4 linked regions of the Homo sapiens genome follow. The protein of the gene in region 1 interacts with the protein of each later gene in a pairwise test. Each region holds a gene or a part of one and is shown on either strand. Other genes may lie near its edges.

The links.
Region 2: the proteins of cystathionine beta-synthase (region 1) and PRKAG1 interact in binary tests that used the Homo sapiens proteins (3 or more experiments, as listed by UniProt).
Region 3: the proteins of cystathionine beta-synthase (region 1) and GAL interact in binary tests that used the Homo sapiens proteins (3 or more experiments, as listed by UniProt).
Region 4: the proteins of cystathionine beta-synthase (region 1) and UBASH3A interact in binary tests that used the Homo sapiens proteins (3 or more experiments, as listed by UniProt).

What each region holds. Positions count from the first base shown.
Region 1 is NC_000021.9:6,444,361-6,450,711, forward strand, and holds the end of cystathionine beta-synthase, read right to left. Parts: intron 6,287-6,351; coding exon 6,152-6,286; intron 5,726-6,151; exon of another isoform or gene 5,609-5,725; intron 5,572-5,608; coding exon 5,463-5,571; intron 4,206-5,462; coding exon 4,121-4,205; intron 3,418-4,120; coding exon of another isoform or gene 3,376-3,417; intron 1,302-3,375; coding exon 1,198-1,301; 3' UTR 509-1,197; downstream 1-508. UniProt on the Homo sapiens protein: Hydro-lyase catalyzing the first step of the transsulfuration pathway, where the hydroxyl group of L-serine is displaced by L-homocysteine in a beta-replacement reaction to form L-cystathionine, the precursor of L-cysteine.
Region 2 is NC_000012.12:49,008,601-49,015,806, forward strand, and holds part of PRKAG1 (5'-AMP-activated protein kinase subunit gamma-1), read right to left. Parts: intron 4,511-7,206; coding exon 4,462-4,510; intron 790-4,461; exon of another isoform or gene 709-789; intron 1-708. UniProt on the Homo sapiens protein: AMP/ATP-binding subunit of AMP-activated protein kinase (AMPK), an energy sensor protein kinase that plays a key role in regulating cellular energy metabolism.
Region 3 is NC_000011.10:68,679,448-68,687,578, reverse strand, and holds the start of GAL (galanin peptides preproprotein), read right to left. Parts: upstream 3,036-8,131; 5' UTR 2,847-3,035; intron 2,656-2,846; coding exon 2,575-2,655; intron 1,986-2,574; coding exon 1,931-1,985; intron 1-1,930. UniProt on the Homo sapiens protein: Endocrine hormone of the central and peripheral nervous systems that binds and activates the G protein-coupled receptors GALR1, GALR2, and GALR3.
Region 4 is NC_000021.9:42,406,902-42,414,107, reverse strand, and holds part of UBASH3A (ubiquitin-associated and SH3 domain-containing protein A), read right to left. Parts: intron 4,687-7,206; coding exon 4,500-4,686; intron 1,085-4,499; coding exon 886-1,084; intron 699-885; coding exon 585-698; intron 550-584; exon of another isoform or gene 1-549. UniProt on the Homo sapiens protein: Interferes with CBL-mediated down-regulation and degradation of receptor-type tyrosine kinases. Promotes accumulation of activated target receptors, such as T-cell receptors, EGFR and PDGFRB, on the cell surface.

The sequences.
Region 1 (6,351 bases):
GACCAGCCTGGCCAACATGGTAAAACCCTGTCTCTACAAAAATACAAAAATTAGCCAGGCACAGTGGTGCACACTTGTAATCCTGGCTACTCGGGAGGCTGAGGCAGGAGAATCGCTTGAACCCAGGAGGTGGAGGTTGCAGTGAGCCGAGATTGTGCCATTGTACTCCAGCCTGGCAACAGAGCAAGACTCCATCTCAAAAAAAAAAAAAAAAAAAAATTAAACATGGAGTTACCACATTAACCAGCAATGCCACTCCTGGGTACACACCCAAGAAAAGTGAAAAGAGGTGTCCAGACATACTCGGCCATGAAGGTGCACAGCAGGTTACTCACAAGGGCTGAAAAGCAGAAACAACCAGGTGTCCATCACCGATAAATGAGGAACCAAAATGTGGTCTATCCACACAATGGCTTATTATTCGGCCACAAAAAGAAACCAAGTACACGTGCTCTGACATGCCTGAAAATACCATGCAAAGTGAAATAAGTTAGACACGAGGCCACAATTGTGTGATTCCATTTATATGAAATGTCCAGAACAGGGAAAACCTATTTTAGACAACAGAGACACAAAGTCGATCAGCAGTTGCCAGGGGAGGAGGAAGACGGGAGGGGAAATGATTGCTTCACGGGGTGATGACAGAATGTTCCAGAACGTGACAGAGGTGGTGCCTACACAACTTTCTGGATGTACTAAATGCCGCTGATTGTTCACTTTCAAGTGATTGATTTTTAGGTTATTTGAATTTCATCTCAATTAAAAAACCCAAACACGCAAACTGCTCCCGCCAGCTCAGCCCCGAGCAGACGGCGCAGCCCGTGGAGGATGCTGAGCCACCCAGGCTTCTCCCCGCCCCTTCCTGGACTCTTCTCTCTTTTGCCTTTAATCCACTCTGCGCAGTCATTGCCTGTGTTCATCCTACCTGGCCGACTTCTCTCTCAATATTTCCTTGGTGAAACATCCTAAGAGGAAGTTACATTAGAGAAAATCACATATTTCATCTCATAGGCCGTAAACAGGGCCATTTAGGAAGCCATGTGTTAACGAGGGGAGACGGATGCTCTGTGCCGTGTGCAGGGATAACGGTGCCAGGCCAGGCAGTTACCAATCACGCGTGTGTTTAGGGCTCAGGAAAGCGAAGGAGAAGTGGGCAAGGGTGGCGGGCCCGCTCCGCACCGCCCAGCGCTCCGGACTTCACTTCTGGTCCCGCTCCTGGGCGGCCACGAAGTTCAGCAAGTCAATGGCGGTGACCACCCCGAACACCATCTGCCGCTGACTGGACTTCCCGGTGCTGTGGTCTGAGGGGAGAACGAGGCAGTGGGTTTGCAGGTGCCGTGGGAGGCTGGGTGGGCTGCTGCGGGGCAGGAGGCTCCTGAGGGCCTGGGGCACCTGTGCACCATGGGGGCCCAGGGTGGCTGGAGCCCAGCGGCGAAGGCTGTGTTCCTTTTTTTTTTTCTGAGACAGGGCCTCACTCTGTCCCCTAGGCTGGAGTGCAGTGGTGCAGTCTTGGCTCACTGCAACCTCCACCTCCTGGGTTCAAGTGATTCTCGTGCCTCAGACTCCCGAGTATCTGGGACTTCAGGTGCACATCACCACACCCAGCTAATTTTTGTATTTTTAGTAGAGATGGGGTTTTGCCATGTTGGCCAGGCTGGCCTTGAACTCCTGACCTCAAGTGATCCACTTGCCTCGGCTCCCAAAGTGCTGGGATTACAGGCGTGAGCCACTGTGCCTGGCCAAGCCAGTGTTCTTCTGACATGAGCCCCATGAGCCCCCAGGCCAGGTTCTACCCACCACGTGAGTCCCCTGGGCCCCAGGCCAGGCTCCACCCACCGCAGGTCAGGACACACCCTTCCCTGGCCCACCGGCTGAGCTCCTGAGGCACTCATGACTTCAGAGCCGGTGTGGGCATGAAATTCAAACCCGCTTACAGGGCCGGGCACAGTGGCTCACACCTGTGATCCCAGCGCTGTGGGAGGCCAAGGTGGGAGGATCATTTAAGCCCGGAAGTCTGGGACCAGCCTGGGCAACATATTGAGACCCTGTCTCTACAGAATATTTTTAAAAATAAATTAGTCGAGCATGGTGGCACACGCTTGTGGTCCCAGCTACTTGGGAGACTGAGGCAGAAGGATCAGTTGAGCACAGCAGGTCGAGGCTGCAGCGAGCTATGATGGCACTACTGCACTCCAGTCGGCAACAGAGCAAGACCCTGTCTCTAAAAACAGACAAAAACCCCTTGCCACCATGGGCAGCACACAGCTTCCATCTCTGGCCTGATTCTGTCTTCACCCCTCCTGCTTTCTCCTGGCAAGCGTAGACCCGGTGTTAATGCTGGCCGAGGCTCCCATGCCACATACCCAGACAGGGCTGTTGTGATGGTTAATTTTAATACAGATTAACGGGGCCGTGGGAGCCCAGGCATTGGTCACACGTCGTTCTGGGCATGTGTGAGGGGATTCCGGATTAGCACAAGAGTCAAGAGGCAGATAACGTGTGCTACTGTGGAGGGCCTCACCCAAGCAGTTGAAGGCCTGAATAGAACCAAAGGTGGAATTTCCTGCCTTGGGGCTTGAACTGCTGGCTCTCCAGTCTCCGGCCTGCCGCCTCACCCTGCAGATCTCAGGGTTTGTCAGCCTCCGTGATCTCATGATCCAGTTCCTTAACACAGATCTCGTTCCCTCTCTCTCCCCGCTCCCCACACATCCTCTTGGTCCTGCGTCTCCACAGGACCCTACACCAGCTGTCATGAGGCACAGAGGGGTGAGCAAGGTGCGGGTGAGGAAGAGCCCTCGGAGCCCGTCCCAACTCCGCCACGGCTGTCACTCCTCTCTTTGTAGGCAGAGGTCCCTTGGGGTGGCCCACTTAGAGCCCCAGGAAAAGATAGGGAACACAGATGAGATCAGCTCCTTGCATTTTGGGGAAACGGAGGCACAGCAACTGTTGGAGAAGGGAGCCCTGGGAGCCCTGAGTGCCGCAGGCTTCTGTGGCCCTGGCAGCTCGGCCCAGAGTCAATGGACTAGGGCCAGCCAGGGGACTTTCCGACAAGGGCCAGCTGGTGGTATTTTAGGTCTTGGGGGCTGTGCCGTCTCTGTTATGAGCACGCAGCCCTGACGTGCTTGAAAGCAGCCACAGACGGTGGTGACAAGCGTGGACATGCTCCAGGAAGACTTGATTTGGGGACCCTGACATTGGAATTTGCATCTTTTTTTTTTTCTGAGATGTTCAAACACAAGTAAATGTGAGATTAAGAGGGGGATCCCTCCTACCCAAGCTTGGGGGTGGGTCCAGGACCCTGGAAGGCCTCCATTTGCCATGGGGAGGCTGTGAATCTGAGCCTGAGAGCCATTCTGAGGGGTGGGTGATACCTACCTGCAGGCCCCCCCACCACGCCTGCCCAGGCCTGGTCCTGCGCTGCAGAGCCAAGGACGGGAGATGGGGTTAGACTTGGGGCCCTCACGGACCAGCCTCAGCCACCGAGCGCTCACCCCCTGCACACAGGCCTGGTGGGTGGGCAGGCTCCAGGCTCCAGGGCCCCTCCCAACTCTTCCTGTGGGCCCCAGGCCCAGGGCTGCCATCTATGACCCAAAACCTGCGAGCGACTCTCCTGGCCTGTGGGGATGTGGTGGGGACGCCCGGGGATGCGCTCAGGAGTTGCAAAACCTCATGAGCTTGCTGGGAGCGGGGCTCTGAGGACAGCCCATCAGTGGCTCCTGTGAGACCCACATGAGGCTTCCATTCAGAGCAGCCCTCCGAATGCCAGGGTCAGGACTTGAAACCCTTCTAGATGTTTCTGGGCTTGTCCCTGAGAATCCCCAAGACTGCTGGCCTCCCCGGAGGCAAGGGGCCTGGACTCCTGAGCCTCTGCATGCTGGACAAAGGGCCCTACCCAGTGTGGCCTGATGAGGGGTCCCTGCAGGAATCACAGGTACAGCCCACCAGCCCAGGGCATGTGGGAGGCCCGGGCATAAAGACTGGGTGTCACTGAAGGTCGGCACCACCCACTCCCCTAACACCCCGCAGGGGATGGGGGGCCCAGCTGCTGCCCATGGCAGAGGCCAGGCTTGGTGGCCTGACCCCAGTGAGAACCCCACGCACAGAGCAGGGCCCCACTCACACTGGATCTGCTCGTGCACCACCAGGGCGAAGTGGTCCATCTCCAGGATGTGCGAGAGCCTGCCCAGCGTGTCCGTGAGGCGGATCTGCAAGGGAAGCGTGGTCAGTGGCAGGGGGAACATGGCCCCACGAGTTTTCTGTGGAGTGAGAGGGGATGCGATGGTGGGTCCTGCAAAGCCCACCCGGGAGGCAGTGGCAGCCGAACGTGGGAAATACGTGGATTCGGGTGACGTCTCGGGTGTGTGTGTGAGATGGGAAAGAAGTCGAATTCACTCCTAGGTTTGGGCAGAACCCTCAGCCTTTCCAGTGTCAAGAGCCACACCTGCATGTCCCAGGGGATCCGTGTGGAAGGTCACACAAACTTTCCTGGGCCACCCTCAGGGCAGCAGAGGGTGGGTGTCTCAGGACAACCACGGAGTCTGACCAGCCCGGCAAGGAGCCACCGTGGGCTTCTCCCAGAATGTTCTAGCTCTTGTTGGATAACCAAGTGCATGCACAGGCAAATGAGGCTGGGCAGGAGAAAGACCCCAGCAGACGCCGCATGGTGCCCGGGACAGCCTCTGAGCGCGAATGACCTCCTTAAGTCCCCAAAACACGGCTGGTGTGGATGAGCCTGCACTGATGAGAGCCTCCTCTCCGGCTGCTGCACTTGTAAAGTGGGTGCTTCTCAGCTTCATGGTTTGAGGGGTGCAGCCAGCTTCGGCCTAAGTGGTGTTGAGGGTCGAGGACCCAGCACCCCCACACGGGAAGCGCGGTGTCCCGCCTTCGAGGCTGGAGTACTCTGGCACCCTCTGGGGTCCCGAAGTGCCTGAGTACCTGTTTGAGCCGCGTGTAGGTGACTGCGCACCTGTTTGAACTGCGTGTAGGTGACCGCGCACCTGTTTGAGCTGCCTGTAGCTGACCGGGCACCTGTTTGAGCTGCCTGTAGGTGACCGCGCACCTGTTTGAGCTGCCTGTAGGTGACTGGGCACCCGTTTGAGCTGCCTGTAGGTGACCGCGCACCCGTTTGAGCTGCCTGTAGGTGACCGGGCACCCGTTTGAGCTGCCTGTAGGTGACCGGGCACCCGTTTGAGCTGCCTGTAGGTGACTGGGCACCCGTTTGAGCTGCCTGTAGGTGACCGCGCACCCGCTTGAGCTGCCTGTAGCTGACCGCGCACCTGTTTGAGCTGCCTGTAGGTGACCGGGTACCTGTTTGAGCTGCCTGTAGGTGACCGCTCACCTGTTTGAGCTGCCTGTAGGTGACCGCGCACCTGTTTGAGCTGCGTGTAGGTGACCGGGCACCTGTTTGAGCTGCCTGTAGGTGACTGCGCATCTGTTTGAGCTGCCTGTAGGTGACTGGGTACCTGTTTGAACTGCTTGTAGATGACTTTGCCAACTTGGTCTGACGGCTGCACCTTCCCGGCAAGCAGGGACGAGAGCATGTTCCCAAGCGTCACCATTCCCAGGATTACCCTGTGGGACGGGGGCAGGCAGGGGTCAGCGCTCATACCTCACCCCTCCCAGGACGGTGGGGCACACGCTCAGCTGCCCCAGGGAGGAGCGCTCTCTGGCCACACATGGAAGTCCTCTGCCACGAGCCTACACGCGGCAGGAACCAGTCTGGGCCCTGGTGGGGAGAAAGAAACCAAGAGTCCTTGGACCCGTTCAGCCAGGGTCAAGGGTGACCAGCCGTCAGGTTTCCGCGACGTGGGGCTCTCAGTGGTCACTGGGCATGTGTGCCAAGGCTTTCTGCTGTCAGACATGTCCTCGGGGCATCTCTCCCCTGACCTCCAGGTGGGCCCAGGACAGCCTGCACACAAAGGGTGGGTGGGCTGAGGTCTGAGGGCCTGGAGTGAGCACGGCAGCCCTGCCCCAGGCTGCTCAGGGACCGGCAAGGGGCCTCCAATGCCCTGAACGTCTGTATGAGGCGGCCCAGGCGGGCCTATCAGCCCAGCTGCAGGGTCTGCATGGCTGCCCTGTCCAGTGACACTGACGGGGTGGAGCTGGGCAGACAGAACCCAGGACTGAGCTCTGAGCAGGGGCTGAGACTGACCCCGCCTCATCCACCACGGGCGCCTGGTCGAAGCCCTTCTCCCGGAGGATCTCGATGGTGTGCCCACAGGTGATGGTCGGGAGCACGGTCAGCGGGGCTGACAGGCCCAGCTCCTGAACACGGAGGTGCCACCACCTGAGGGAAGAGGGCAGGTCGGGGGGATCAGGATAAGGACAAACGCTCTCGCACCCCCGCCGGCA
Region 2 (7,206 bases), on another chromosome or scaffold:
TGAGAAAGGGTGCATGGGAGGTATGTGTTTTTGAGACCTTGCAGCCTGTAGATATCTTTATTCTACCCTCATCCTTGGATTTATAATTCGGCTGAATAGAGAATCTGCAGGAAAGCTTGGAATGTGTTTTCCTGCAGAATGTTGAAGGCATTGCTCCATTGCCTGCTAGCTGCTGGTGTTGTTGAGAGTCCAAGGCAATTCTGACTTTTTGTATGTGACTTTTTTTTCCTCTCTCTGAAAACTCATAGGATCTCTGTTTCCAGTGTTCTGAAATCTCAGGATGACTGTGCTTTGGGTGGGTCACTTTCATCCATTGTGCTGAATATTCGATGGGTCCTTTCAATATGAAAACTAATGTCCTCAAGTTCCAATAAATGTTCTTGAATTAGTTCCTCAATTATTTCCTTCCCTCTGTGTTGCCATTTTTCTTTTTCTATGACTCCTATTTAGATACTGGACCTCCTAGACTGATCCTTTAAATGTTTGTTTGTTTTGTGGGTTGTTGGAATCTTTCCTCTCCTTTTTTTTTTTTTTTTTTAAAGAGACAGGCTTTCATTCTGTTACCCAGGCTGGAGTACAATGGCGAGATCATGGCTCACCTGCAGCCTTGACCTTCTGGGCTCAAGCAATTCTCCTATCTCAGCCTCCTGAGTAGCTGGGACTACAAGTGTATGCCACTATGCCTGGCTAATTTTTATTTTTTTGTAGAGACAGGGTCTTGCTGTGTTGCTGAGCTGGTCTTGAACTCCTGGCCTCCCGCCTCAGTCTCCCAAAGTGCTGGGATTACAGGTATGAGCCACTGCACCTTCTCTCCTATTTTCTACTTTGTTGATTTTTAACTCTCCTTTCTGGGAAATTTCCTCATGTTGATTTTTGAAACCTCCAGCTGGGTTTAAATTTTTGCTACTATATTTTTAATTTCCAAGAGTTCCTTTTTGTTTTCTGAAAATTCCTTCTTTAAAAAATTGTATCCTATACTTGTTTCATGGTGGAAATAAGGTTTTTTGTTGTTGTTGTTTTTGTTTTTTTGAGACAGAGTTTCACTCTTGTTGCCCAGGCTGGAGTGCAATGGTGCAATCTCGGCTCACAGCAACCTCCACCTCCTGGGTTCAAGCGATTCTCCTGTCTCAGCCTCCCGAGTATCTGGGATTACAGGTACATGCCACCATGCCCAGCTAATTTTTGTATTTTTAGTACAGACAGGGTTTCATCATATTGGGCAGGCTGGTCTCAAACTCCTGACCTCAGGTGATCTGCCTGCCTCGGCCTCCCAAAGTGCTGGGATTACAGGCGTGAGCCACCGTGCCCGGCTGTTGTTTTCTTTAAAGATATACTACTTTCACAGGTATTGAGAAATATGTTCCTTTATCTAAGATTATATTAATGTTATTAAAGTTTTCTTCTCATCTTTTCCTTCCAGTTGCTTTTTTCCTGTTTGTTTCTTCTGTGTGTACATGAGGTTGGGAGAGGCAGTTTGCTTTTTCATTTTTATTTATTTTTTACCAGGGAGATACAGCCTTCAGAGTAAAACAAAGGTACATTCCAGAGTGGGGTGGGGGGCAGTTTGGATCACTTTTTTTCACAGATCCTTTCTTTAGATGTTTGGTAATCCCTAGTTTAAAGGAGAACTTAAACCATAACTTAAGAGTGGAGGCTTTAAAGCTGAGTGGAAGCTCTAAGTGTGTAAGTGAGCCTTGCTGACAGTGAGTCATTTGGATAGGGAACATTCAATACTTATATATTTTAGGACTTCCCTTCAAGAGGATTCTGGAGAGAAGGATTATTCAATTTCATGCTTGGAGGGTGAAGGCTCTTCTGCCAGCGCTCTGGAAACTGAAAAGGGGGAAAGGGCTGGAGGCTCAGCATCGAGTATAGTTCACTACATGCTCCTGTTTTCAGTGCAGTACTTCAGCCCTAAGCTGTGCCCGAGTCCCTTGCCAGATTTCCAGTCTCTGCCACAGTTGGGAGGCAGAGTTGCCCACTGTACTCAATGGGGTAGGGTGTCTTGGGATCTGACTGTTTCTTAGACCTTCAATGCTTCTTGGCTTTCCTCACTGCTAGTTATAATTCAGTTTTCTCAGGTCTAAGTCATTCATCACTCTTTTGTCTGCTTTTCAGCTTCCAAAAATTCATTGCTATTATCTCCTCTCCTGTTTTCCCTATGGTGTGTTTGTGTCTTTTTCTTTAAAAAAATTCCTTTATGGTGGTTTTAGGGGAGTTTTTGGGAATATATATTCAATGTACCACCTTTTTTTTTTTTTGAGACAGAGTCTTGCTCTGTCACCCAAGCTGGAGTGCAGTGGTGCGATCTCCACTCACTGCAACCTCCTCCTCCTGAGTTCAAGCGATTCTCATGCCTCAGCCTCCCAAGTAGCTGGGATTACGGCACATGTCACCATGCCTGGCTAATTTTTATATTTTTAGTAGAGACGGGGTTTCACCATGTTGGCCAGGCTGGTCTCAAACTCTTGTTCTCAAGTGATCCACCCGCCTCAGCCTCCCAAAGTGCTGGGATTACAAGCATGAGCCACTACGCGCAGCCCAATCTACCAATCTACCGTCTTTAACTGGAAGCCTACCATTGTTATTCAAACTTGAGAATTCAGACTCCCAAGAACATGTCTTTGGACACCAGTTGAAGATACATACACTACATTGATAGTTAAATACTATCATTCAGGCCACAGGCCCATAAACATATTGGATTTGGCTTTCTCAGTGTTTGTTTGTTTATAATTGAGACAGGATCTCACTCTCTGCCCAGGCTGGAGTGCAAAAAATTTTTAATTTTTTGTAGAGACAGGGTCTCACTAAGTTATCCAGGCTGGTTTCGAACTCCTGAGCTCAAGTGATCCTCCTGCCTTGGCCTCTCAAAGTGCTGGTGTTACACTGTGCCCAGACTTGAAGATCTGGCAAAAATAGGTCTTAGTTGACCAGACCTAGATAGTTGTCGCCTTTTTTTTTTTTTGAGACGGAGTTTCACTTTTGTTGCCCAGGCTGGAGTACAATGGCATGATCTCGGCTCACTGCAACAAAATCTGCCTCCCAGGTTCAAGCGATTCTGTGATTCTCCTGCCTCAGCCTCCCAAGCAGCTGGGATTATAGGCGCCCACCATCAAGCCCAGCTAATTTTTTCTACTTAGTAGAGATGGGGTTCCACCATGTTGATCAGACTGGTCTGTAACTTGTGACCTCAGGTGATCCACCTGCCTTGGCCTCCCAATGTGGTGGGATTACAGGCGTGAGCCACCACACCCAGCTGCCTTTAGTTTTTTGAGACAGAGTCTTGTGCTGTCGCCCAGGCTGGGGTGTAGTGGCACAGTCTCGGCTCACTGCAACCTCTGCCTCCCAGGTTCTAAAAATTCTCCTGCCTCAGCCTCCCGAGTAGCTGGGATTACAGGCATGCAGCTCCACGCCCAGCTAATTTTTTATTTTTAGTAGAGACAAGATTTCACGATGTTGGCCAGGCTGGTCTTCAACTTCTGACCTTAGGTGATCCACCCACCTTGGCCTCCCAAAGTGCTGGGAATACAGTCATGAATCACCATGCCCGGCCCAGCTGTCGCCTTCTTTTCATATGTAGTTCACTTCACTGCTTGGTCCATGTAGGCAATTTGAGTTTCTAGTTTCTGCCTTGGTGCTAATGCAAATGTACTCAGAAACATAAAATAGGCACTGGCCAGCATTGGAACTGTCTTCCCTGTGCTCTGGATTTTAGAGGTTTAGTGCTTCTATTACTAGATTAGTTCTAAGAGCCTTTTCCTAATTTTTTTCTTTCTTTTTTTTTTTTTTCTGAGACGAAGTTTCACTCTTGTTGCCCAGGCTGGAGTGCAATGGCACGATCTTGGCTCACTGCAATTTCTGCCTCCCTGGTTCAGGCAATTGTGCTTCAGCCTCCCAAGTAGCTGGGATTACAGGCATGCGCCACCACACCTGGCTGATTTTGTATTTTTAGTAGAGACAGGGTTTCACCAGGTTGGTCAGGCTGGTCTCAAACTCCTGAGCTCAAGTGATCCACCTGCCTCGGCCTCCCAAAGTGCTGGGATTACAGGTGTAAGCCACTGCACCAAGCCCTTTGCATAATTTTTGGTGTACATTCAGTGGCTTTAGTGAGCTTGCTGGGTGATAAAATCCTGGTAGCACTGTTTCTGGACTATGCAGAAAATACCCAGGACTTCTAAAACATGGTAGCCAGCCCAGAGTTGCCTATGGAAGTTTTGCCTGTACCTCAGATGTTTCTCTCAAGTGGTTTGATAATTGAAGATATTAATCATCCCCACTCTGCCCAAGATTTATTCCTGGGTGATCTTGCCAAACTACTGTCACTGATTTTTGTGGTTTGGCACATTATCTGGCCCTGCTTTGATTTTTCCAGGGGAGAGATTCAAAAGCATTGTTGAAGACATTGTTAGGGTCAGGCTATTGTTTTCATGCCCAGTTTCCTTTCTTCAGTAAACTTACCTTGAGGATGCTCATTTTCCACAGCTGGGGAGCTATCTGAAGAAATGACCTGGAGAGATAAGAAAACAGATTCAGCTTAACCTGGTTCCATCCATTTTAGCCTAGCAACATTAGGGGAAGGGCTGGTGAACAAATAATGACTTTCTTTAAAGCACTATAAAGCCACTGCCCCCGCCAAACCCTTTTTTTTTTGTTTTTGAGACAAGGTCTCGCTCTGTCACCCAGGCTGCAGTGCAGTGGTGTGATCACAGCTCACTTCAGCCTTGACCTCCTCGGGGTCAGGTGATCCTCTCTCACCTCAGCCTCCTGAGTAGCTGGGACTACAGGTGCAAGCCACTATACCCAGCTAATTTTTGTATTTTTAGTAGAGATGGAGTTTTGCCATGTTGCCCAGGCTGGTCTTGAACTCCTGGGCTCAAGTGATTGCCCTCCTTGGCCTCTCAAAGCACTACGATTACAGGCACGAGTTACTGCACCCAGCCTTATAAGGCTCTTCAGAAATATGATCTCATTTAATCTTCATAACAACCCTGAGGTAAATACTATTATTAGCCTTATTTTCACAGATTGTCTCTGAGGGTCAAGAGACATTAAGCAACTTGCCCAAGGTCACATGGCTGATAAGGGGTGGAGTAGGCATTCAAACACCTATCTTCTGGTTCCAGAGCTTGTGGTTTGCTTTTGTTTACATCAAAATTTTAATAAATAACATACTTGAAAAAACAAATTTTTAAAAAACTACGTATACCTAACAAAATAATTTCTTATAACTGATGAAGAGTTTGGTTGGGTTTATCTTGGCAGTGTTCATTTTTGTAAATTTTTTTGTTTGTTTTGTTTTGAGGCAGAGTCTTGCTCTGTTGCCCAGGCTGGAGTGCAGTGGCGTGATCTTGGCTCACTGCAACTGCCTCCTCCTGGGTTCAAGCAATTCCCGTGCCTCAGCCTCCTGAGAGCTGGAATTACAGGCGTGCACCACCACACCCACCTAATTTTCATATTTATAACAGAGATGGGGTTTTACCATGTTGGCCAGGCTGGTCTCAAACTCCTGACCTCAACTGATCTGCCCGCCTCAGCCTCACAAAGTGCTGGGATTACAGGCATGAGCCACCACGCCCGGCCATTTTTATAAAATTTTTGAATGTATTTACTCCATTCTGATGAAATTCTACCTCTCTGGAATCACAGAAGAGAAGAAACCAATACTGCTACAATATTGTGCCTTCCAGAAATGCTTCTATCCACTTCTGAGCTGAACGAGCATTATCTGCAAAGCTCATGTTCTTGTACACTATACTGCCTAATGAAACACTAGGTCCTAAAAGCTAAGACTAAAGATCTGAGCTTAGGGCTAACCCCTACAAGATTCTCACAGATCTACTTTATTAAAACATGGAAGCCAGAGAGACAGCATTGTCTTCCCCAAACACAGACACTCACTAGGCATAGTTGTAGGCACTAGAACCACAGACACTGGTTCCACCATTGTCTAGCTCCATGGCAGAGAGAGAGCCACAACTGGGGAGGATCCCAGTAGCTGACTGTCAGCCAGTCAAAACCTGAATGACTGAGAGGTGGATAAGGAACACGAATGTACTGAAACTGGGAACTTGAGTCCACTCAGCACCCTTGTGAGTCAAAGGCTGCTATAGCCAGGGGATGCTGGTTTTCCAAGTTTCCCTTCCCAAGATAGTCTGAGATTAGAGAGTGCTTTGACTAGACAAAACTTAGAACCATTTCTGTGCTCCCTCAAGTGGGAACATTTGGAAATGCCATTGTTATTTAGGAACCCAGAAGGGATCACAACAATTTTCATCTGCTAGCATCAACAGTCTTGGCTCCATTTTCTCTGGGTGATATCTCCAAAATAAAACCATACTTCATCCCCATAGCTTCTGTAGTAACATGACATTAAAAACTTCAACCTGGGAGGTTGGCTGACAAACTTCCTAAACCAGGGAAGTTTAAGACAGCCCTAAACTTTTCTCCCTTAATGGGCTAGGGGAGAGTGCAGGGAGTAAGGGGGATAATCTCCCTCTTCCCACTGGACTGCATAAGACTGTCAGCTTGGCCTGCCATTTTGGCAAGACTATCAGAACAACAGCCTCATCACTTATAAGTGGGAGAGAGGGCTGTGATAAAGATAGACACATGATATATCAGAGTCTCACAAAGATCTACACAAAGGCACAAAAACAGCTACTTCTGTAGAATTTACCCATCATATGATATATACTGTACTGTGCTACAGTTATTTTGTTCATTATCTATCCAAACAGATTATAAATTCCTGGAAACCTAGAACTATCTTATACTTTGTATCTCCCATACCACCAAGCACAGGGTTTTGCATATAATTCACAGTTGTTTTGTTTTTTAATTCTCAAAGAATGATGCACACTGATATGAACAGATATGCCCAAGACTAAGTTACAGAGGGAGGAAAGAAACATAGAGCTAACTAGAGATACAGATACCAACATAAGAGAGTCAAACACAACTGCATATGTGACTTTTTTTTTGGGCGGGTGGGCAGAGTCTCGCTGTGTCTCCCAGGCTGGAGTGCAGTGATGCGATCTTGGCTCACTGTAATCTCCGCCTCCGGGGTTCAAGCGATTCTCCTGCCTCAGCCTCCCAAGTAGCTGGGACTACAGATGCCTGCCACCACGCCCAGCTAAGTTTTTTTTTGTATTTTTAGTAGAGACGGGGTTTCACTATGTTGGCCAGGCTGGTCTTAAACTCCTG
Region 3 (8,131 bases), on another chromosome or scaffold:
ACTGAATCTGATTTTTATTTTCACTCTGGCAGCTGTGTGCAAGATGGACTGGAGCCAGAGAGAGAGAAGGAGAGAGACAGAGGGAGCGAGAGGGTCACAGAGGGAGACAGGATGGGGGTGGGGGGTGCAGGAGCGTGTGTGCGTTCCCGTGTGTGTGTGGGTGTGTTTCGTGGTGCGAAAATGGAGGAACTGTGATTGCAAGCACAGAGATCCCAGAATTCCAGGGAAGAAACGATGAAGGCTGTAAACCAAGAGGCGTGGGGTGAAGAGGAGGGCTGGATTTGGGGCTGTGCAGGAAAGGAAATGGAAATGAGAGATGGGGACGAGGGTGAGGACGCCTCTGTGTTTCCAGCTGGTTGGCCTGGGTGGACTGTGCCATCTACAAGGCCAGACAAAGGAGAATTAACGCGTATTTCCAGAGATGCCGTTCTTGGTGCTAAATTTATAGAGGAATCATAGGTCGCCTCATGTCACTGATGCACCCTCAGCCACGGCCACACTGCGTTCAGCAGCAGCTGGTGCAAAAACATTGCTTTTGCTGCATTTCTAGCAGATCCTAGAAATCAAAGGCACATTTTTAAGTATTTTGACAAACAACTCGTCTAGCTACAGCTGAACAGGGCCGTAAAATTGATGGCGAAAATGAGTTTGTTTTCTAATTAGGGGTCAAACTCTTCTTGACAAATAGATTTTCAATATTCCAAAGCAACACAGATAAATGTTCTCATTGACCAGTTCTGCCTTTGTTTTGGGCCCGTAGCACACAAAGATGAGGTGCCCTCTGAGTGGCAGAGCTCAGGGTTGCAAAGGGTTGAGGAAATCAGCCGACCCTCAGGCAGGTCAGGCCACTCCATGGGCAGGGAGAGGATGAGAGGGCCGCACAGAGACCAGCAGGCTCTGTGGTGAACAGCCTGGACCGATCCGCACGCGGCCTCAGGCGGCTCTGTCATCCCCGTGTCTGTTTCTTAAAGCCTGACTCTGGGGGTCCTCTGAGTGACCCCGATAAACAAGCGTCTGCAGGAGGAGGAAGCTGTATTCGACTCTGGGACTGAGAACTAAGTCAGCTTTCCTTGGCATGGGGAGAAGAGCACCATTCTCCCCATTTGCTGCTCCGCGGGGCTCAGATAGGCCCTGCGTGCTGTTCACATCCTTCCTCTGGCAGAAGGCAGTACAGGGAGGCTTTTAAGGTGGATGGTGAGGTGTGGAGGGGAAGGTGAGTTACAGGAGGGAACCAAGGCCTCCTCTTGTCCCCTCCTTTGGAGGAAAGTCAGAAGGCATTGCTGCACAGACCAAGGATGTGGAGAAAGTAGAGGCCTGGGACAGGGGCGGGGGCGGACACGGGGAGGTGTCAGCCTGCAGTGTCCCATCTAGGGCTAGGGCTCACCTCAGGCAGCAGGGGACACCGCTGACACAGGTGACAACAACAGGACAGGGAGAGGGAGGGGACACAGGCTTGGGCAGGCAGGGTCACCTGAACCTTGTTTTGAGGGGAGCCTGTCTGGGCTGCCTTCAGGCGATCTGGCAATTCCCGTGTGGAGCTTGGAGAAAGGGAAGAGGGAGGCAGGATTTGGGGTCCGCTGACCTAGGGTGCTCTGCAAGCCGAGGAGTTGAGTGTTTTGGGAGACCCGGGGGCCTGGGGAGAGGCCCAGAACAGGGCCTGTAAGGACTGCAAGGCGGGAAAGCCCAGGAGAACTTGAGCAAAGCCCAGGGTGGGAATCTCACCCCGGGACAGGGCGGCAGAGCCGGGGCAGGAGAAGCTTCTGGAAAGAACCGTACACAGATCAAGTGTGCAGAGCAATGGAGACGGGCAATGAGGTCAAGAGGGAGGCCAGAGGGTCTGCCCAGCCGCAGGCGGAGGGGCAGGAGCCAGGGTTCAAAGCGAGGGGCAGGTGGGGTCAGGAGTGGGGAGGCCATGCTGTCAGTCACTTACGTGGGCCCAGCAGGTAGCCCGCGCTGTTCAGGGTCCAGCCTCGTTTTTCCTTGGCCTTGAAGGGAGAAAAGGGGATCAGATGCCAGGGCTGTGCCTGGAGCCTATGCTGAATGGGTGCACCCAGGCTTTCCCGGCATGGCAGAGGACTTAGAACAATGCATGTGCTTTTGGATAGCTCGCGAAATTCCAGGTTTACCCCTAAGTCGGCTATATTTGACATGAAAATGGAACCACTTTATTTACGAAATACTTCACTTGAGGGCCTGAGCCCGCGCACTCTCAGCGCACTGCACCTGCTTTAGTGACGCTGAGGCCACGCCAGTGGCTCCTAGCCCTCCATTCTAACTAAGCCCTGCGGAACGGGCGAGCTTCTCGCTTTCCCGAGGCGCTGACCCGAAGCGCAGAGCTCTCCCGGCGGCCTGGTTATAGCCCGGGGCTGTTGATACACTCGGAGAAGCGCGCGGGGGGAATCCCAGGGAGCCCCGGACCCTTCCCGCGACGCCCGCAGCCAGGACAGCGCCCGCCTTTCCACTTTCCACCCCCATCCCCGCGGGCAGGGCGGAGGCTGCCTCCTCCAGGAAGCCCTCCACGCCCGGCCGGCTCTGATGTCCCCTTCGCTCGGAGGAGACGCGCCCCGCACTTACCGGCGACCAGAGCCCCGCAGAGGCAGAAAGGGCCGCGGCGAGGAGGAGGGAGGCGAGCAGGAGGGCGCTGCCTCGGGCCATCTGGAAGGGAAGGACAGGGCGGGCGGGTCGGAACCCGGAGTGGGCTGCGCCCCGAGGCAAGGAGTGCCGGGGCTGCGGGGAGGAGCAGAGGCGGCGGCCGGGCCAGGGCCCTGGCAGAACCGTCCCTGGGCAGAGGAAAGCCGAAGGGGAGGCCTCCCGGGGGCGCAGGGTCGGCCCGGCGCCAGTAGTACCTTGAGCTGCGGCTGCGCCCGGGTTCGGAGCGTCGGGGTCCGGGTGCGGTGGCGGGTCTGGGCGGCAGGTCCGGGCGTCGGGCCGGGTCGGGTGGGCTCTGGCGGCCTGGGGCGCTCACCGCATGGCGCGGCCGGCAGCAGGGGCAGAAGGCGCGGGCCGGGTCCCTCCACGTGTCCGCCGCCCGGTGTGGCCGCCGCCACCGCCGCCGCTGCTATATATGCGGCGCACCCGGGAGCCGCCCGGAGTCGCGTCACCGGCTCAGCGCCCGCCTCCTGCACCCTCGCCGAGCCCCGAGGGCGACGGGAGTGACCCGAGCTCGGGTCCTCTGGGCCATCATAGGCGGGTGCGGCGGAGAGCCCCCCCTCATCCCGCGGGAGAGACTCCCCCAAATCTGCAGAGAGAACCCCAAACCCTGTGGGAGAGACCCTAATCCCGAAAGACAGAGCCCAATCGCCCCGCGGGAGAGCCCCCAGACCCGTGGCCCAAGTCATCGCTGTGGCGTCAACCCCACTGCTCCCCCCGGGGTCCCAGCCCCAGAGCAAGCCTGACCCCCCACAACGTCCCACGCCTGCGGTCTCCCTGCAGCTTCTCCTCCCAGCCCCTACCGCTGCAAAAGCCAGCTGAGCTCCGCAGCACTGGAGACCCCAGAGGGTGACGGGCAGGGACGACTCCTCAGTCCGAGCCAGCCCCAGCTGGGAGGTCATGGGGTACCCGGGGAATGGCGGGCAACACTTGGCCCTGCGCCCTGGCCGGCTTGTGCTGGGGCTGGAGCGAAGGTTCAGGCCTCGGGAGCCGTCGATGGCGGGGAGGGCAGGCGTTCCCGGCTCCCTGTGCCCAGCGACCTCCCTCCTGTTTCACTAAAGGGGGGCTGTGGATCTCAGGGTCTGCTTGGCCATCCCATTGTGGGAGCTGCGGGACCGTCGAGCATCCACAGGCACCAGCTCAGAAGCTCGGCCTCTCAGTGCCTCCCCTGGCTGCCTGGTCCAGTTGTAAGAGGGAGCTTTAAGCAGGTCCAGCCATTGGGCAACTGGTTAGGTCCAGAGGGAGAGCAGCCCAGACTCCCAGAGGCCGCCAAGGGGTGGGCGGTGGGCAGAGCAGCAGCAAGAGGCTGTCCTTGTGCCCAAGGCAAAGACATCCCACAGGAACAAGGCCCTCCTTGGCTCCTCCACAAACCCTTCCTGAGCTGGGGCCAAGTCCCGAAACAACCCAGGAGAGAACCCAAGCCTAGGCTGTTCCTTCACCCCATTCCCAGGCATCAGGGGAGCACAGGATCCCAGGCATCACACTTGTACAGTGTGGCACCTCCGGGCTTCCGAAGAGCACGGGGTCATCTGCTGAAAACTCGCCTGACCTCCCCTCCCACTGGCCAGACACCACCCAAGTCCTCAACAGCAGCAGCTGGGTTAGGATCTCCCCACCCACTGGGCTCAATATCAGATGGGTTGATGTCACATCTGTGGGTTGATGTCCACAGGGCACAGGACGAATGATGATCATGACAGTGTCATCTTACCTGTCCTCTACACTTTAGTCTTGGGAACCTTTGCACAGACAGCTACAGGCTGCCCCCAGGAGAGATCCGTCTGCCTCCACGTGGCTGGGGAAGGACAACTGGGCTTTCAAGAACTCTGGCGAAGGCCAGCGGCTGCTGGAGAAGGTGCAGGGCTGCAGCCTGGTGGCTGAGTGTCTGCTGTGGTTTATGGGAGGAAGAGGAGGAGACAGGACTTGGGGAGGGGTCTTAGGAACAGACTCCTGGCACGACAGTGGTGAGGGGTGGGGTGTTCCCAAGGGCACAGTTTGACTTCTGGTCATCCCTATTTCTTGCAGCCTGGGGAGAGGAGAGTCAGGCACAGGGGACCCTAACTAGGACTCACAGGCTGATTTCGGAGCCCACAGTAAACCCTGAAGTGGTTTCCTGCCGGGAGTGGGGGCGTGGGAGACAGTGAGTCGCCATGAGAGTCTGGGCCAGCCGTGGGCAGAAGGACAGCCGAGAGGCGGAGGAGCAGAGGGCACGTTCCTGTGACTCTGCAGAGAAGTGACAATGATGTCCTCTCATGCCCCATGTCCTTGTGTCTAGATGACATCAGGGAGTGGGCAGGGGCTGGGCTCATGGGTGCCTCTTGGCTACCTGAGAAATACTGCAACCTTTGGCCCCCGGTGGTAGTGGGAGCCCTGCTACCATCCCAGAGCTCTTTCTTGCTTTCTGCTGAGAACAAATCCAGCCCAGTGCATAGCACATCTTAGTCAATTCCAGCCTTCTCCTTTCTTCCACGTTAGGCCCCCTTCCAAATCCTGCCAGAGCTTGACTACACTTATTTTCTCTATTTACTTTGTCACAGAGGCTCTTAGTCTGTTTAAAGGAGCACAAACTCTAAACCTAAATCCTTGAGATGGATTCGAAAAGAGACTCAAAGTCCATCCCTTAGTCATGGGCTGGAATTTGAGGTACATTAAACTTTCAGCTGTCTTCATTTGGGCCTATGTACTCTTTTTGTTTCCTTTTTTGCTTTCAAAGAAACTTCAGACTGGGCGCAGTGGCTCACGCTTGTAATCCCAGCATTTTGGGAGGCTGAGGTGAGTAGATAGATCACTTGAGCCCTGGAGTCCAAGACCAGCTGGGGCAACATAGCAAGGCCTCATCTCTACTAAAAATAAATAAATAAATATTTTTTAAAAATCAGCCAAGCATGATGGCACGTGCCTGTAGTCCCAGCTACTCAGCTCAGGAGGCTGAGGTGGGAGGATCACCTGAGCCCAGGAGGTTGAGGCTACAGTGAGCCACGATCAAGCCTGCACTCCAGCATAGGCAACAGAGCAAGTCTCTGTCAAGAAAGAAAGAAGGAGGGAGGGAGGGAGAGAGAGAGAGAGAGAGAGAGAAGGGAAGAAGAAGAAAGAAGAAGAAGAAGGAGGAGGACGAGGAGGAGAAGGAGAAGAAGAAAAGAGAAGGAAGGAAAGTGAGGAAAGAGAAAGGAAAAAAAGAAAAATAAATTTCAGGCCGGGTGCGGTGGCTCATGCCTGTAATCCCAGCACTTTGGGAGGCCAAGGCGGGTGGATCACAAGGTCAGGAGATCGAGACCATCCTGGCTAACATGGTGAAACCCCGTCTCTACCAAAAATACAAAAAATTAGCCGGGAGTGGTGGCAGGCGCCTGTGGTCCCAGCTATTTGGGAGGCTGAGGCAGGAGAATGGCGTGAACCCAGGAGGCGGAGCTTGCAGTGAGCCTAGATCGTGCCACTGCACTCCAGCCTGGGTGACAGAGCGAGACTCCGTCTCGAAAAACAAAAAACAAAAAACAAACGAAAAAGAAATTTCAGGGTAGGTTATCTGGTCAGAGCCTCCTTATTAAAAAGACATTAAGCAACTGGAAACAAATCTTCACATGTATTTTGAATTCATTTAAGAAAGCTCCATTGAATAATTAGACACATGTATTCAAAATAAACATGCCCATGCCTGATTCCTCCAGGTCCCTAAGTTCTTTTTCCACGTGGGATGACACCCACCGTCTTGCTTCCCGCTTAGTCTGGGTGAGTGGGTCTCGGTATAAACCCTGGCTGGGACCCTGGCCCGGAAGTGCGGTGACCATGGGAAGGCTACAGACAAGCAAGGCAGTGGCCTGAAGGCGTGCTGGGGTTTCCTGAGGTCGGCAGATTCCTTCAGACAAATGAGGCCAGCACACCTGGGATGACAGACACCTGCCTCCCGGCACAGACTGTGCTGGAACCACAGCCAGTGTGCTAATGGCTCTTTGCTCAGTAATGACCCAATGGCAGTCATTGTCAACCTGTCATCTTGAAGACAGCCCAGTGTGCAGCAGACAAAGTGGGTCACCATTAGAGTAATCGAAATCAAGCAGAAAGCCTGATGTCCCCCGCTGCCTTCGAGCCAGCCCATCTTCCTTAGAAGCGCTGTCCACCACCAGGAAAAACCACCCTGAAGCTGAGAACTCAAGCAAGGGTCAAGGGTCACCTGGGCCATGCCCACTGCACGGGAGCTCAACCGTCCATTGCCTGGCAGTGGAGCTGCAGTGGTGAAATCAGCAGCAGGGTCCCTGCCCTTGCGGAGTTAGACCCTCACGGAGACCCATTACAGTTGGCCCCTCTGTATCTGTGAGTTCCCTGGCTGTGGGTTCAACCCACTATGGACTGGGTCCTTGTAGGTAGGCCTAGGATGGGTTTCTCTGTACGAATACGTACAGACTTTTTTCCTTGTCATTATTTCCTAAACAATACGGTATAACAACTATTCATGTAGCATTTACATTATACTCAGTATTATAAGTAATCTAGAGATGATTTAAAGCATGTGGGAGGGCCATCGCGGTGGCTTATGCCTGTAATCACAACACTTTGGGAGGCCGAGGCGGGCAGATCACTTGAGGTCAGGAGTTCGAGACCAGCCTGGCCAACATGCCAAAACCCTCTCTCTACTACATATACAAAAACTCAGCCAGATGTGGTGGCGGACATCTGTAATCCCAGCTACTCGGGACGCTGAGGCAGGAGAATCACTTGTACAACTGAACCCGGGAGGCAGAGGTTGCAGTGAGCCGAAACGGCGCCACTGCACTCCAGCATCTGGGTGACAGAGTGAGACTTCATCTCAAAAATAAAAAAGTTAAATTAAAAATAAAGCATATGGGAAGATGTGCGTAGGTTATATGCAAATACTATGCCATTTTATATAAGGGACTTGAGCATCCACGGATTTCGGTATTTGCGTGGCCAGGGGTTTCCTGGAACCAACCCACTGTGGACATGGAGGGCCAACTGTATGCAACAAATGGTTATTGTACAAATAACCACCCCATTGTCGTGGGAAGGAGATGCATGGATTAGGGGAGCTGAACCTGACAGGTGAGCAGGACTGACTGGGTACAGAATGAGGTCCAGCACACTCCAGGTGGAGGGGGTTACATGGGTACGCCCCCTTTTTGGTCCTTTTCCATTCCTTCTTCCTGCTGCCTGGAGTGTGGACGTGAAGGCTGGAGGTGGGCAACGAATTTGGACCATGAGGTGATGGCTTCAGGTGACACATCAAGGCCGAGGGAGCCTGGGTCCCAGTGACCCTGAGCCTGGTCCCTGGGCTGCACACTTCCAGGCTTGTTTCACAACAGAGGAGAAGAAGCATCTCTCTTATTTAAGCCAATGGCCCATAGAGGTTTTCCATCACGTGCGGTAGGAATTGTTCCAATCAGTTTCACAGTGGTCAACAAATGTTTGATGAATGAATGAATGAATGAATAAAAACACGTGAGAGGGTACACCACCTCCACCGCTGCTG
Region 4 (7,206 bases), about 36 Mb from region 1:
TCCCGGGAACTATGGCAGGATGGGCCACAGACTCAGGCAACATTGTTCTTGAAGAGTGAGAGCCCTCATTGTTTTGTAGAGAAAGAAAAAGAGACAGAGAGAGTGGACATGACTTGATTAAGGTCATGCCACTCATCAGGGACACAGAAAAAAATCACATCTTCTGACGTCAAGTCCACAATCCTTTCCACTAAACCCCAATGGTAGCCTTGGTCTCCAGGCCAGGGCTGGTGTTTGGAGAGAAGGGAATTTTGATGATTCTGAATATGAGTCTAAATAATCTTTCCCTGGAGAGGCCAAGGAGAGAGCACTAAGCTCATACTGAAAATACAGAAATAAGTCACGTAGGACTTGTGTGTCTCCCACTCAAGGCTGGGGTGGGGAGGCCCTGACTCCCTGTGTGCACCAGCCTCCAACCCCGTCACAGTCACCCACTCAGGCTTGATGCTTGGCACACCCTTCTGGGGCACTTTCCCAGGCTGTTGGCATATAGCTAAGCATTTTAAAAACCACATAATGAGAACAAGGCTATTCCCGCCTAAAGAGAAGACCAAAGCTGGTCCGGAAGCTTTCTAATGGCTTACATTTTTGAAGGATGTAGTGGCTCACGAAGGAGGCTCTAGTTAAATTGCTCAGCCTCAGGTTAGGGCCATGTCCAGGCACCTGGCTGAAAATCCAGAAGCGGGAAACGGAAGTGCCTGGGTGAGGACAGGTGCAGCCACTGAGCCCGGAAGAAAGCCCACCCAGCCATCCCACCATTGCTGCTGGGCTCTGCTCCCCTGGAACCCACCCACTGCATCCATGTGCCGGGGGCTAGTCCCTGCCACAGAGGGCTCACTCACTGTGAATCCAGCCCTGTGTTTGCAACTGGCCAGGGCTGCCCACCTGCTAAGAGAGATGCTTCCGTGGCGAAGGTCATGGCGAATTCCCGGATGACGTCTGCGGGGCTGCCACTGACGAAGAAGCCGAGGTAGCTGATGGAGGAGTGGAGAGCCAGAGGCACGGCCGTGGGGAAGGAGCCCAGGAGCCTGTCTCCAGCTCTCTTCAGCGCCTCGTACAGGCATTCCACCTTCTGGTCTTCACACTAAGGGGACAGAGACAGAGCCTGTGTTTCCACACCTCTCATCAGAAGTCATCTATTAATTTAATTAATAACAATCAGGCAGCAATTAAAGTGAGATTCTTTTCTGTTCAAAGCGCTGTAACATAATTTATTGCGTCCCTTTGTGTCTGGGGTTATGGATTTGTTCTATACCTGGACCTCGGTTTTTTCAAATATTTCAGGTAAGTTTCTTTGCAGGTTGGAGTCTCCTTTAGGTGCCCAGGTTGGAAATCCCCTGGTCGTTGAACTGCATCCCCTCCCTCCATGGCACGTGCTCATCACCTGCCAGGCCCTTTCCTCAGTCCCATGGCACACTGCTTTGCTCAGGTTTGCATGATTTGGCTTCTGGAGGTTTCTAGCAGACTCCAAGGCTGCCCAGGCACTGCTCAGAGCCTGTAGTGAGCGGGACTCAGCTGCACTTCCAGCTGCGGGGCCACCCTCTCTTCCACGGCTGAGCACTGAGTCGGGTTCCACAGGGACTCCTCTAAGGCACTGAGGCTCTGCCTGCCTCCAACCCTCTCCTCCTCTTTTGCCTTCACCAGCAGTCTCTCCCCTGTGCGTCTCCTGCACTGGGAATTCTGCCTTGGGGTCTGCTCCCTGGAGGACCTGAGCCTGCACAGCCCCTGGCCCGGCCTCCCTGATGCCCCCTGAGTGGCTGCAGGACCCTCTTTCTGATGCAGCTCCCACCCCTGAGGCCGCAGGCTCTCTGTCACCTGGAGAATCCCTCAGGCCCACGGAGCCCGACAGGTGCTGGCCCGACAGCCTTGCCCACGGGGCTCCCACCCCCATCCTCCAGCCAGACGCAGCCTCTCCTGACATCTGGGCTCGGTGTTGCCTACCGCCCTGGGGAGGCTGCTTCCTGGGCTTGAAAACCTTCCCAGTGCCATTGGCCACATCGGACCACAGGGGAAACCCAGACACCACACCCTCCTGGCGGGAGTTGGCCTGATCCCTTCTCTTCCCAGCACCGGGCTGCCCTCGGAATTTCCCACAGTGCTTCTTACAAGCCCAAGTATGAGGCCAGATCACAGTGTTTAATGCAGCTTCCGTCTCCCCATGGACAGGCCGGCCTGACATTCCTCCCTGTCTGTTTTCTCTGCAACCCTCAACGGCACTCAACACAAAACCACCCAGTGAACACATGTCCATTCCTGAATCCGTCTCACATTGTGTTTCTTGGCCTCAGATATGTAATTTTCAAGAATAGTCATGTTATAAGTGTAGCTGTGATCAATATCACACTTCGGAAGATTAGTGTTTTCATTTTACAGCATCAAGGTACACAGTGAGTCTCCGTTACACTCTTCTGCCTGTGAGGGGAGCTCCACTAACCACGGCCAGGCCAGAACTGGGGTGGGGGACTGGGAGGAGCTAACGACAGAGGGAGGTGTGTGAGTGTGTTTGTGTCTGCATATGTCTATATGTGTGTGTGTCTGTGTGTGTGTCTGCATATGCGTATGTCTATGTGTGTCTGTGTGTCTGCGTATGTCTATATGTGTGTCTGTGTGTATGCATGTGTGTATCTGTGTGCATATGTGTGCATGTGGTGCTTATGTGTGTGTCTGTATGTGTGCATTTGTCTATGTATGTGCATGTATGTGCATGTCTGTGTTTGTGCATGTGTGTCTATCTAATGTGTGTCTCTGTGTGTGTCTGTGTGTGTCTATGTGCATGTATCTGTGTATTCCTGTGTGTGTATATCTGTGTGTATCTGTTTGCATGTGTACCTATGTACATGTAGTGTGTATGTGTGTCTATCTGTGTGTGTCTGTGTATGTCTGTATCCATGTATGCATGTATATATGTGTGTGTCTGTGTGTCTATATCTATGTATGTCTGTATGCAGGTATGTGTGTGTATCTGTGTGTGCTGTGTACGTCTCTGTGTCTATCTGTGTGTGTCTGTGTGTATCTGTGTCTCTGTGTGTGTCTGTATGCATGTATGTGTGTGTATCTGTGTGTGCCGTGTGTACGTCTCCATGTCTGTGTGTGTCTGTGTGTCTATATCTATGTATGTCTGTATGCATGTATGTGTGTGTATCTGTGTGTGCCGTGTGTACGTCTCTGTGTCTATCTGTGTGTGTCTGTGTGTCTATATCTATGTATGTCTGTATGCATGTATGTGTGTGTATCTGTGTGCATGTGTAAGTCTCTGTGTCAATCTGTGTGTGTCTATGTGTGTGAGCTATGTGTGTGTCTCTGTGTCTATCTGTGTGTGTGTGTGTGTGCTTGCACCTCAGTGGGCTGGGGAAGGAGTGGGGGGCCAAGGCCTGCTCTGATTTCTGAGCTGTGTCACATGGCTTGGGCTGCCTTGCCTTTCCCCGTTGGCTCCAGAGGGTGAACCAGAAGGGAGTCAGCTTGTCACAAGTACCATTGATGTCGATGTAGGGGGAAAACTCTCTCGATTTTTCTGGGGCTTTTCCAGGTTTAGTCTTGTGCTCTGGGGATCCCTGCAAGTCTCGGGCAATCCGGGGTGGTGGTTGGAGGCTTTGGAAGGTACTGCTTCTCCTGGGACATCTTCCAGAAATCTTTTCCCTTCAGAGGTTTGCATTCCTCCTTTCCATCCAGCACCGAGGGGCCTGGTGTTGGAATGGAGGGTTCCTTGGGCCCTGATGGAATTCCTTGAAATGGGTGGAACAAATCAGTTTGCCAACAGCAGAGTTGGGGCCAGGCCGCGGTAGCAGAAGTGGGTGTGCCCTTCCTTAAGCCCCTCTGGCGGAGCTGAGTAGAGCAGTGGCTGTCTGTCTCTCCCTTCTCCTTCTTTTCTCCTGAGCAGCTCCCACATTCTTCTTGTCTTCCCGGTGCCCCTGTAGAGCTGCCTGCTGGGCCATTGTGTTTTGCTGTGGAGCTACCCACTGGGCCATTTTTTTTCTGAATCAGACGGCTGGTCCCTGAGACAGGGAAAAGTTCTGCATTTGTGGGTAGCCAACAATCACCCATCCTTGAGTTGACTTACCACACATTTTGGAAGCACAAACTCTGTTTTAGGGGCTGTGCTAGTTTCTGGGGGTGCAAAGATGAGTGAGGTATCTGCCTTCCCTTGAGGGACTCGGTCTGGTGAGGGATGCGGTGCTGCACCAGACACATGGCCCGTATGATACAAAAGTGCCACTAGACACATGAACGAGAAAATGGGCAGCAACTCCTTTTGCCTGGGGAGCTGGAGAAGACTCAAAAAGGGGAGAGGATAAATGAGTTGGGTTCTGAAGGATTAATAGGAGTTGACCAGATGAAGGCAAAGAGGAAAATAAAGGACAGCTCATATGAAGGTGCCAGCTAATGATGCAGTTCTGGACTATCCCATTTAAATAAGTCAACTTTGTCCCATCATGGCCTAGTTAGCACAGAAAAATGCCTCCAGCTGCCGTGAGCATTGAAGGCACACTGGGTTGACTCACCGTGAAGAAGTCACAGAGTGTCACGTGTGGGAAGACCTCATGAGCTCTGTTCTTTGCACACTGGCGCTTGCTCTCTCTCCAGAACTCTTGAAGTTTTTCCAGCAGGGGCCCCGTTGGACAGAGGAAAAGGGCATACTCCTGGGGGATGGGGTCGTCTAGGGAAGGGTCATTGCAATGATCATGCAGCCTGCAACAGAGAGCAAGCCGGCATCACCCACTGTCACAACAAAAAGAGTTTTCCCCTTTGAGGATACACAACAGAATGACAATGACAGCAATGCAGAATTATAGGGCACACTGAAGACATCATATATGCTCATGACATAAATTAATCTCACAGCCATCCTACTGGTGGGAGGCACTGCGGCACAGCTGTGTGTGGCACAGACCTGGTCAGTGTAAGTCCTGCTCTCAGACCCACCTTAGTCTGATTCCAAAGTCAAAGGTAGAAAAAATGAAAGAAAGTTGACAGCAAGACCTAAAACCTGGTCTTCCAATGATCCGTGGGCCCAGCATCTCCTTGATGGTGTGGGAAAATTTTGTGGAAAAACCTCACATTTGTATTTTACCTCAAACTTCAAATTACATATAAAAACCAAAACCAAAAACCTAGACAAAATTTAGGTAGCTGCTGCGTTTCTTTAGATTCAGACAGTTTTTATTTTATTTTATTTTATTTTATTTTATTTTATTTTATTTTATTTTATTTTATTTTATTTTATTTTTGAGATGGAGTCTTTCTCTGTCACCCAGGCTGGAGTGCAGTGGCACAATCTCAGCTCACTGCAACCTCCACCTCTCCGGTTCAAGCAATTTTCCTGCCTCAGCCTCCTGACTGGCTGGGATTTCAGGCAGACAGTTATTTTAAATTAAAGGAAAAACGACGGATGACCCAACATAGGAGTTCATTGTCACTAACAATAAAAATGGAAATAAAATAGCTCCGAGACGGCATTTTTCTCATCTGTCAAGTTCACAAAGATTTTTTCAATAAAAAGGATAAAAGTTCTGCTCAATGTGTAAAAGATGCAGCAGGACTTAAGGACAGACCTTTCAACTTTTATGTGAAGCAATTTGCCAATAGGTATTGAGAGTCTTAAAATGCCCACACTCTTTGCATTAATAATTCTACTTCCAGAAATTTCTCCCGAGGAAAGAGCACAAAGTACTGTATAGGCAAAACTTTGCACATGAACCATCTATTTAGGGCTATTTAGAAGAAAGTTAGAAGGTTATTTAGGGTTATTTAGAAGAAAGAAGAAAAACTCCATAACTGATAGCAAATCTATTTACCGTGCATTCATTAGAAATCATGGTTTGGAAGAATTTCTAATTACTCAGCAAAGTGCCTGTGATATAATTTTCAATTTAGAAAGTAGTATTCAATCACTAGAGGAAACAGAACTTACGCAAGACCATATTCTCTTCAATAAAAATCACAGAAGAAGTTGCCACTCCTCTCCATCGTGGTTCCCACCCTCCCCCTTTCCAGGGTTCACCCAGAGGGTGAAGCTGCTTTGCCTTCTCCCAGAAATTTAAGTAACGGACTTATAGATAGCACTTGTTTTACATAAATCATAAGCTGTTATTCAAATTATTCTACAACTGGCATTTTTCCTCTACCATGTCTTTTCAATTAATCCCTGTTGATACACACGTGTCTAGTGAAGTTTGTCAGCGCGAATTTGTTAAAGGCTGTGTAATAGTTCATGTATACATATACAATGTTGCACTTGTTCATTCCCGCATTGATGAACATCTAAATTATTTTATTTTAAAACCATTTCATAACCCTGCAATCAAGATCTTTGTACATGTCTCTTTAGGCTCCTTGCATTTCTCCAGGGAATCTGCTTAGACGCACGACGGAGGCTGGTGGGCTGTGCATATTGCCAAGGTTGGCAGATACCCAGCACTGCCTTCCTCAGTGACACCAGTGACGTGTGAGGCCCTGCTTCCCTCACCCTCATCAACACTTGGAGTTACCTTGTTTGCTCTAATGATATCTTAATTTGCACCACCTCCCTGGTTACTAGTGAGAGGTTGGGGTGCTCTTGACAGTCTAGGGGACCCCATTGCCTCCCTATTTTTTGGTGGGGTTCCTAGTCTTATTGACTGGGTTGCAGTGGGCAGGTGCTGGCCATGCCCTTCACAGCAGTGGGCTTGTTTCTGATCCAAAATTGGCAACTGGCTTTAGTGGACTCTGTGAAGGGGTTGCCCATTTTGCCCGTGGCCTACACTTTCTGGAGGAGGAGGGGGCATCCCATTGGGAACACTGCACGTTCAGAGACCCAGGATCAGTATCTGCCCTCCTGCTTTGGAGAGGACACTCCAGCCTCCCAGGACCTGGTTTTTATTGTTTGATTTTCCCCGTGGCTATCTCAGGGCAGAGGATGAAGGACTCCCCACAGCACATCCGGGTAGGAGAGGGTTTTAGAGAAACGGTGGCCCTCCTCTCCATCCCCAGAGCAGAGAACAGGCCCATGGCAGTGGGTGGCTTGAAGAATCACTCACGCAGCTGGTACCTGGTGAGGTCACCTCAAATCAGAGCCCTCACCCGACCCACACACCTGGCACCCTTAGACCCACACACCTGGCTTCATGACCACCAGTAAACTCCCTTCCCCTCAGAGGCAGCCCGAGAGCATGGTGGCCGCTAGTCTCTATCAGCAAAGATGTCAATTATGTCTCAAATCTTTCCATCAAT